Linked DNA regions of Homo sapiens. The protein of the gene in region 1 purifies or fractionates together with the protein of each later gene. This does not show direct contact. Each region holds a gene or a part of one and is shown on either strand. Other genes may lie near its edges.

Evidence for each region.
Region 2: the proteins of RCVRN (region 1) and GRK5 purify together in Homo sapiens (affinity purification with western blotting, with the first as the bait; one study listed by BioGRID). This does not show direct contact.

The regions. Positions count from the first base shown.
Region 1 is NC_000017.11:9,895,721-9,899,271, reverse strand, and holds the end of RCVRN (recoverin), read left to right. Parts: intron 1-1,067; coding exon 1,068-1,177; 3' UTR 1,178-2,952; downstream 2,953-3,551. UniProt on the Homo sapiens protein: Acts as a calcium sensor and regulates phototransduction of cone and rod photoreceptor cells. Modulates light sensitivity of cone photoreceptor in dark and dim conditions.
Region 2 is NC_000010.11:119,457,656-119,460,318, reverse strand, and holds the end of GRK5 (G protein-coupled receptor kinase 5), read right to left. Parts: 3' UTR 574-2,663; downstream 1-573. UniProt on the Homo sapiens protein: Serine/threonine kinase that phosphorylates preferentially the activated forms of a variety of G-protein-coupled receptors (GPCRs).

The DNA.
Region 1 (3,551 bases):
CATCCTGGATCCTAACCCAGAAGGGATTAAAGGTATCCAAAAGGCCCAGAGCATAAGTCAGAAATCACATTCAGTTCAGCAAAGCTTTGTTGAGCACCGACTCTGTGCTAGGCACTGTGAACATACAACAGAAAGGAGCATCTGTCTCATGCTAGAGGTATTTCTGCGTGTGACTGCCTTCCCCGCCAGGTCAACAGTTTCCCAGGGAGGGACTTCATCTCACTCTCTTCTATTGTACACCCCGCCTCCGCTCCCTGTGGTGGCCTTGGCTCCAAGCACAGTGGCATCTGGGCTCAGGACCATGCATTTAACTGGACTGATCTGAATACAGTTAGCCACCTGATTAAAAACACCGGAAAACCAGGTGTGGGCGCAACAAGGCTGTCTCTCAGTCCTGATCCCAAATAAGGAGGCAGATGAGACTGGGGGACGCAGGGATGGATGCATAGGAAGGGATCATGGCGGAGTTGTCAGCCAGGAATCATGGGGCTGCCTGTGTGCTGCAGGTGCCAAAGAGACCTCTCTGCAAGCCACACTCCCCCTGGCATGATCTCATTGGGCCCTTCACTTCTCACTCCTATTTCTGGAGGGATGTTGTTCCCTGCTTCTCAGCTGAGACTCTGGGCCTGACATCCAGATTGTTTTGCTATGCTCAGACCCCCAGAAGCTCCTCCTGAACTTGATCCTTGAAACTTGAGCTACTATAGAAAATAGAATAACAATTAATAGTTATTAATTATTGAAGTATTTAATAACCAGCAAGGCAGGGGCACCGGCCAATCGGAAGAGACACATAGCACAAGACTGGCATCTTGGGGGCCCCCCCAGTGCCAGTCATTCACCGCTCTTTGCTGGTCTGCAGGGAGCTCCAAGGGTCATGGGAAAGGAGGTGGGTATCTGGACTGGGGTGGGGGAATATTGAATACTCAGGGCCACTGAGTATTCAATATTCTTATAATAGATACATTCACACTGGGGATACTGGCTAGATGTCAGCCTCATCGCAGCTCACTTGGCTATCAATCCTGACTGTTTTATGTACGTATATATTTTTTCCCAATGCACAGATAAACTTACAGAGAAAGAATTCATTGAGGGGACACTGGCCAATAAGGAAATTCTGCGACTGATCCAGTTTGAGCCTCAAAAAGTGAAGGAAAAGATGAAGAACGCCTGATGCCAACTGTTCAGCTGTCCTCCCTCCACCTACCACTCACATGACACCCGTGAGCGCCTGTGCACACACACACACATGCACACACACGCGCGCGCACACACACACACACACATCCACCCCAGGGCCAAGAGAAAGGCCTGCACACAAGCCCACAGCACAGCTCCCTGCCAAACTGAAGCATCTGTAGTGACCCACTGGTTCCTTCTTCCTGGGTCTTCAGCATTCCCTCCCATCATGCCCGGTCCCACCCCTCCCTCTGTCCACCAGCCCATGGCCCTGTGCTAATCCCAGGATTAGGCCATAGGAGTCCTAAGTGTCACCCCGCTGTAAGCTCCTTTGTGGAGTGCTGGGTAAGCAGTTTCCAATAAACGCAAGCTGAGCTGGGCACGTGGCTGCTGGTCATCCTTCAACTGGAAAAGGAAATGATTTCTATCAGTCACACCTCAAAGACAAGGCTGTGTTGCGATGGCAGCCCTAGGCTGGGCTGCTTTGGTGCGGAATGAGTCTAATGCGGTCCTGCTGTCATGGAGCTCATGGTCCAGAGGGGACAATGAACCTGGAAGGAGCCATGACCAGTGGCCCAGGTTACCATGGAAACGTGCAGAGCACCAGGGGAGGACACAGTGGAAGGGGCTGACTTGTCAGGGGGGATCAGGGACCACATCCCTGACGAAGGGAGATTTAAATTCAGAACCACTGCACACGAGGCGGGGGACGGGGTCGGGGTGGGGAAGTCTCAAACAGAAGGCGGCCAACACAGAGCCGCTGAGGCATGAATGACCATCTCGAGTTCCAGGAGAAGGTCGGGGTGGCTGGAGGGTAGAAGGAGGAGGGAGAGCAAAGTGTGAGCTGAATCTAAAAGGTAGGCGGGGGCTGGACCACGCAAAGCCCTCCCTGCAGCCTGTGGTAAGCACTTGGGGGCTCACCATGGGGACAGCGGTGCCACTGTGGAGTTGGAAGTAGGAGGGGTTTATGTTTGTAAGAGAAGTCCCCAGCAGGCTAAAATAAGTCAGAGAGGAGCAACTGGGGGCTCCCTGGAGTCAGGGAGCCCGATGAATAAGCTTTTGCAGCCACTCAGATGGCCTGGGCCAGGGGAAAGGCAATGGGATGGAGAGGACCAGATCCAGTGAGGACACATTTAGGAGGTAGCATCCACCTGGCTGGCTGAGGGGGCAGGAGGAGAGAGGGCAGGAATGGCAGCCAGGCCTGTAGCTTGGGCAGTGGGTGAATAGCAATGCCATCTATGGAGATGAGAAATACAGAGAGTCTTTGGGGTTTCAGGGAACAATGATGAATTCAGCTTCAATATAGTATGAGGTGAAGGCAGAGCCATAGATGGCCCTAAAGCCCCTTGTTTTAGAGACAAGGAAAAGGAGTCCCAATGACAGGAAGCAGCTTGCCCAAGGGCAGCCAGCTGATGAGCAGAGGTCAGGCAAGGGCTACCCACCGGCCCCCAACTGCCTCCTCAAAGCTCCAGGGCCTGGGATACCCAGGAACTCCATCAGTGCATTCTCCAAGATCCCTGGATTTGTTGCTTTGAAGGCCCATTTATTCTCCAGCCTCAAGTTCCAAGATGAGGTCAGAAAAATGCATGGATACCCTGGATTCTTGACTGACCTGTCTGCAACCTCTTGAGGCTGAGGAGTCTCTAGTTGCTGGTATTGTGGTGATGCCTCCAGACCCCACTTTAGCCACAGAGATGACACAATCACCACTGCCAAAGAGCACTCCTCTGTGTGGAGAGCAAACGTGAGAATAAACACTTATGAACCGTGCACCATGCTAGACTCTGCCATCATTATTTCATTGATGGAGATGTTATTATCTGCACAATACAGATGAGGATACTGAGGGCAGGAAGTGTGAGTAGGAGTTGGTACTTAAACTGGAGTCCCTTTGATTACACCAGATTTCTCCAATAGTTTTGACCTGGACACAGCAGGATAGAGAACTCTAGGATTGCACAATGTCAGAGATGGAAAGGGGAAGGAGGCTACAAGGCATGAGTCCAGAGGTTCTGGGAGGAGAAGGATTATTACTAGAATCATCTACCCAAGGCATTCTCCCATGTAGACATAGTGGGCTATATAGAAGCCAGTTCAGTGGGAGATAAAAGACTCTGTGGGTCCAGTCCAGAGTGTTCTAGGAATATAACCAAAGGGCTCAATGCTCTTTCCACCACACTCCATGAATGAATCTGGTTGCTTCGAGGATGAGGCTGGGGGCTTTTCACTTCTCTCTGAGGTCAGTCTATCATTGTCACTTGAGTCTAAAAGGACAGACACTGCATAATTAGGTCCTTGCTGGTTTGTGGTTCAATGGGAGAGCCAAAGAGTGAAAACCTAATTAGTGCCTCTTTTTTTAGCTTAGGGTG
Region 2 (2,663 bases), on another chromosome or scaffold:
GAGTAAGCCCTGCTCATTCTAACAGCTAAGGCAAGCAGGTCGAGGGAGACAGAAGAGGTCTTGGGTCCCAGATCGGGAATCCCAGTTCTGAGGTGCAAGGGCCGCTGTGCCTCACTGGCTACCCCACGTTCCAGCATGTGCCTGGCATGGCGAAGCCTGGACAGCCAGAAAGGCTCCCTCTGCAGAGCCCGCCTCTTCTGTATAAGACCGGGCAGGTGGGACCTGCAAATGCGCCGTTTGGTGTCATGGTGCTGGCACTGGCTCGAGCCCTTGTCACCCAGCTCCTCCTTGGTGCCAAGTGGCCAGAGCACTTCTAGAACCATCTGCTGGGTTTGAGATCAGAAGCCGGCGGCCTGGTAAGAATTCAGGTTTTCTTGGGCCCCGCCCACTGGAGCTGGGCCATCTGTGGGCAGTTCAGGGGGTGGTCAGTGTGGGGGCCGGGTTTGGGTGGGTTCCACTGTCAACCTTAGGAAAGGGTTAGCCCAAAGGCCACAGGCATCTTGGGGACAGCTGTCGTATGCAGAAGAAACAGAACAAGAGCTCAGCAGCAGGAGAGAGATGCCGATGCCATGCTACTTCCATTAAGGAATTTATTTCTCTTTTAAAAACAACAACAGTGGCTCCATCTAGATCCAGCGGCACTGTGACGCGATAGACGGAACACACAGAGTTACAGCAGCGGGAGAACAGAAGCCGCTGCCTTCAGGAGTGACCGCCACTGTGGAAGTTTCCATTCATTAATGTCCAAATCTCCCTGAAAAAAATTAGAAAGCTTTGGATGCTAGAAGGATTCTTATTATTTTAACAACACCAAAAGCCACTAAACTCTTCTAATTGAGAACACTCGCTTAGGGACTGTTACAAAAATGACTTCTTGATGGACTAGGGAAAGACATCTAAATTCCACTTTGGGGGGGAAGTGTCTTTCTCTGCCAGGGAGAGCTGGCTTTTCAAATGTTTTCAATCACTGTCTCCGGCACAAGCCTTTACGTTTAGGCCAGGTGAGACACCCCCGGCCTGTGCAGGGTCTGACTTGCACACGCTGAGCTTCAACAGCTGGGTGGTGGGTGGGGAGGGCAGGCGCAGAAGGGGTCTCTGGGAGAGGAGGCTTTGCAATCGTGGTCTATTGTGATCAGGAAGATGGCAGCTCTCTGTATTCATAATCCACACAGCGATGTCACTTCCAAATGCACAAAGACTTCATACTCACTATCTTTCCACAGCCGGGGCTAAAAAGTTGGAAGATCCTATCTCAGAGTGTTGGGTTATGAAAACAGGAGACCACCTCTTGGAAGTACAGGTATTCAGGAGGACGTGCATGCACACCAGGGGACCCCAGAGGACAGCTGAGTGTCACTCAGGTGTTTCCTCTTCTTCTCAGAGATTTCCAATTATCCAGGAAGCCACCGTCCCCTTTGGCAAGGCCTGGGATGCCAGGCTCAAGGAGGCTGCGGTGCCCCCTCCGTTTTGAGGGCAGCGGCTCGGTGGGAAAGTCGATGGGTAGCTGGAACTGATAACACGAGCCTTTGGGGAAAGGACAGGGTGTGGAGGAAGAGAAGGGATTTCTGCAGCGGGGCCAGGCTCCCGGGAGACGCATGGAGACTTGCGGGCCTCAGGGAGGGAAGGCCTCGGTATCCTCAGGGGCTCACCTGGGCTCTGATCCTACTTGTGCTGTCAATGCAAAGGCTGTGTGTGTTCCCAGGACTTCCCACCACCATTTGTCTCGGCAGCTGCTTGCTGGTATGTGTATGACCCAGGCCTCACAGCTGTGTCTGTGGGGCAGGCTAGGCCTCCCCGCCCCCGCCCCTCCGAGCAATGCCTTTCAGGAAGCCTCCCGTGGCTGCGCAGGCCACAGCAGCAGCGAGCAGCCCTAGAGCCCCGGGTTCCCGGCCAAGGAAGAGGCGAGAATGGGTTGCTGTGGCATGTGAGTGCATCGTCCGCAAGGCGGGGACCGGGTCTTCTTGCTATTTTGGGTGGTATTCTGGGTGCCCCCCAGGGGACTCAATAAACACTTGTAGGGCATCATGGTGACCATGGCAGAGACCGCCTCTGTCCACCAGGGACAGCAGCTCATCTCCTGAAATGCAGATGCAGAGACGCTTCTGAGAGATCCCATGTCTCACCTCAAAGTCACGAAGTCAGTGAACGTCTGGTGAAAAAAAATGTCATGCCTGGAGCAAGAAAGACTCTTCTGTGAAGCGCTCAAATGCATGAACGAGAGTAAATCCGTTCACCGTCCAAATATGCCTTATCCTGGACAGGTAGATGGGTGGACAGTGTTGTTTGCTTTTAATTTTAAAATATCTTTTAAAAAATGACCGTATAGGCCAGGGACAGTGGCTCACACCTATAACCTCAGCACTTTGGGAGGCTGAGGCAGGAGGATAGCTTGGGCTCAGGAATTCGAGGCCAGCCTGGGCAACATGGGGAGACCCCCCCCCCATCTCTACAAAAAATTTTAAAAATTAGCTGAGTATGGTGGTGCACGCCTATGGTCCCAGCTACCTCGGAGGCTGAGGCAGGAGGATAGCTTGGACTCAGGAGTTTGAGGCTGCAGTGAGCCAGAATCATGCCACTGCACTTCAGCCTGGGGAACACAATGAGATCTTGTCTCAAAAAAAAAAAAAAAAAAAAATGCAGCTATAGAAACCAAGGTTGGAGGA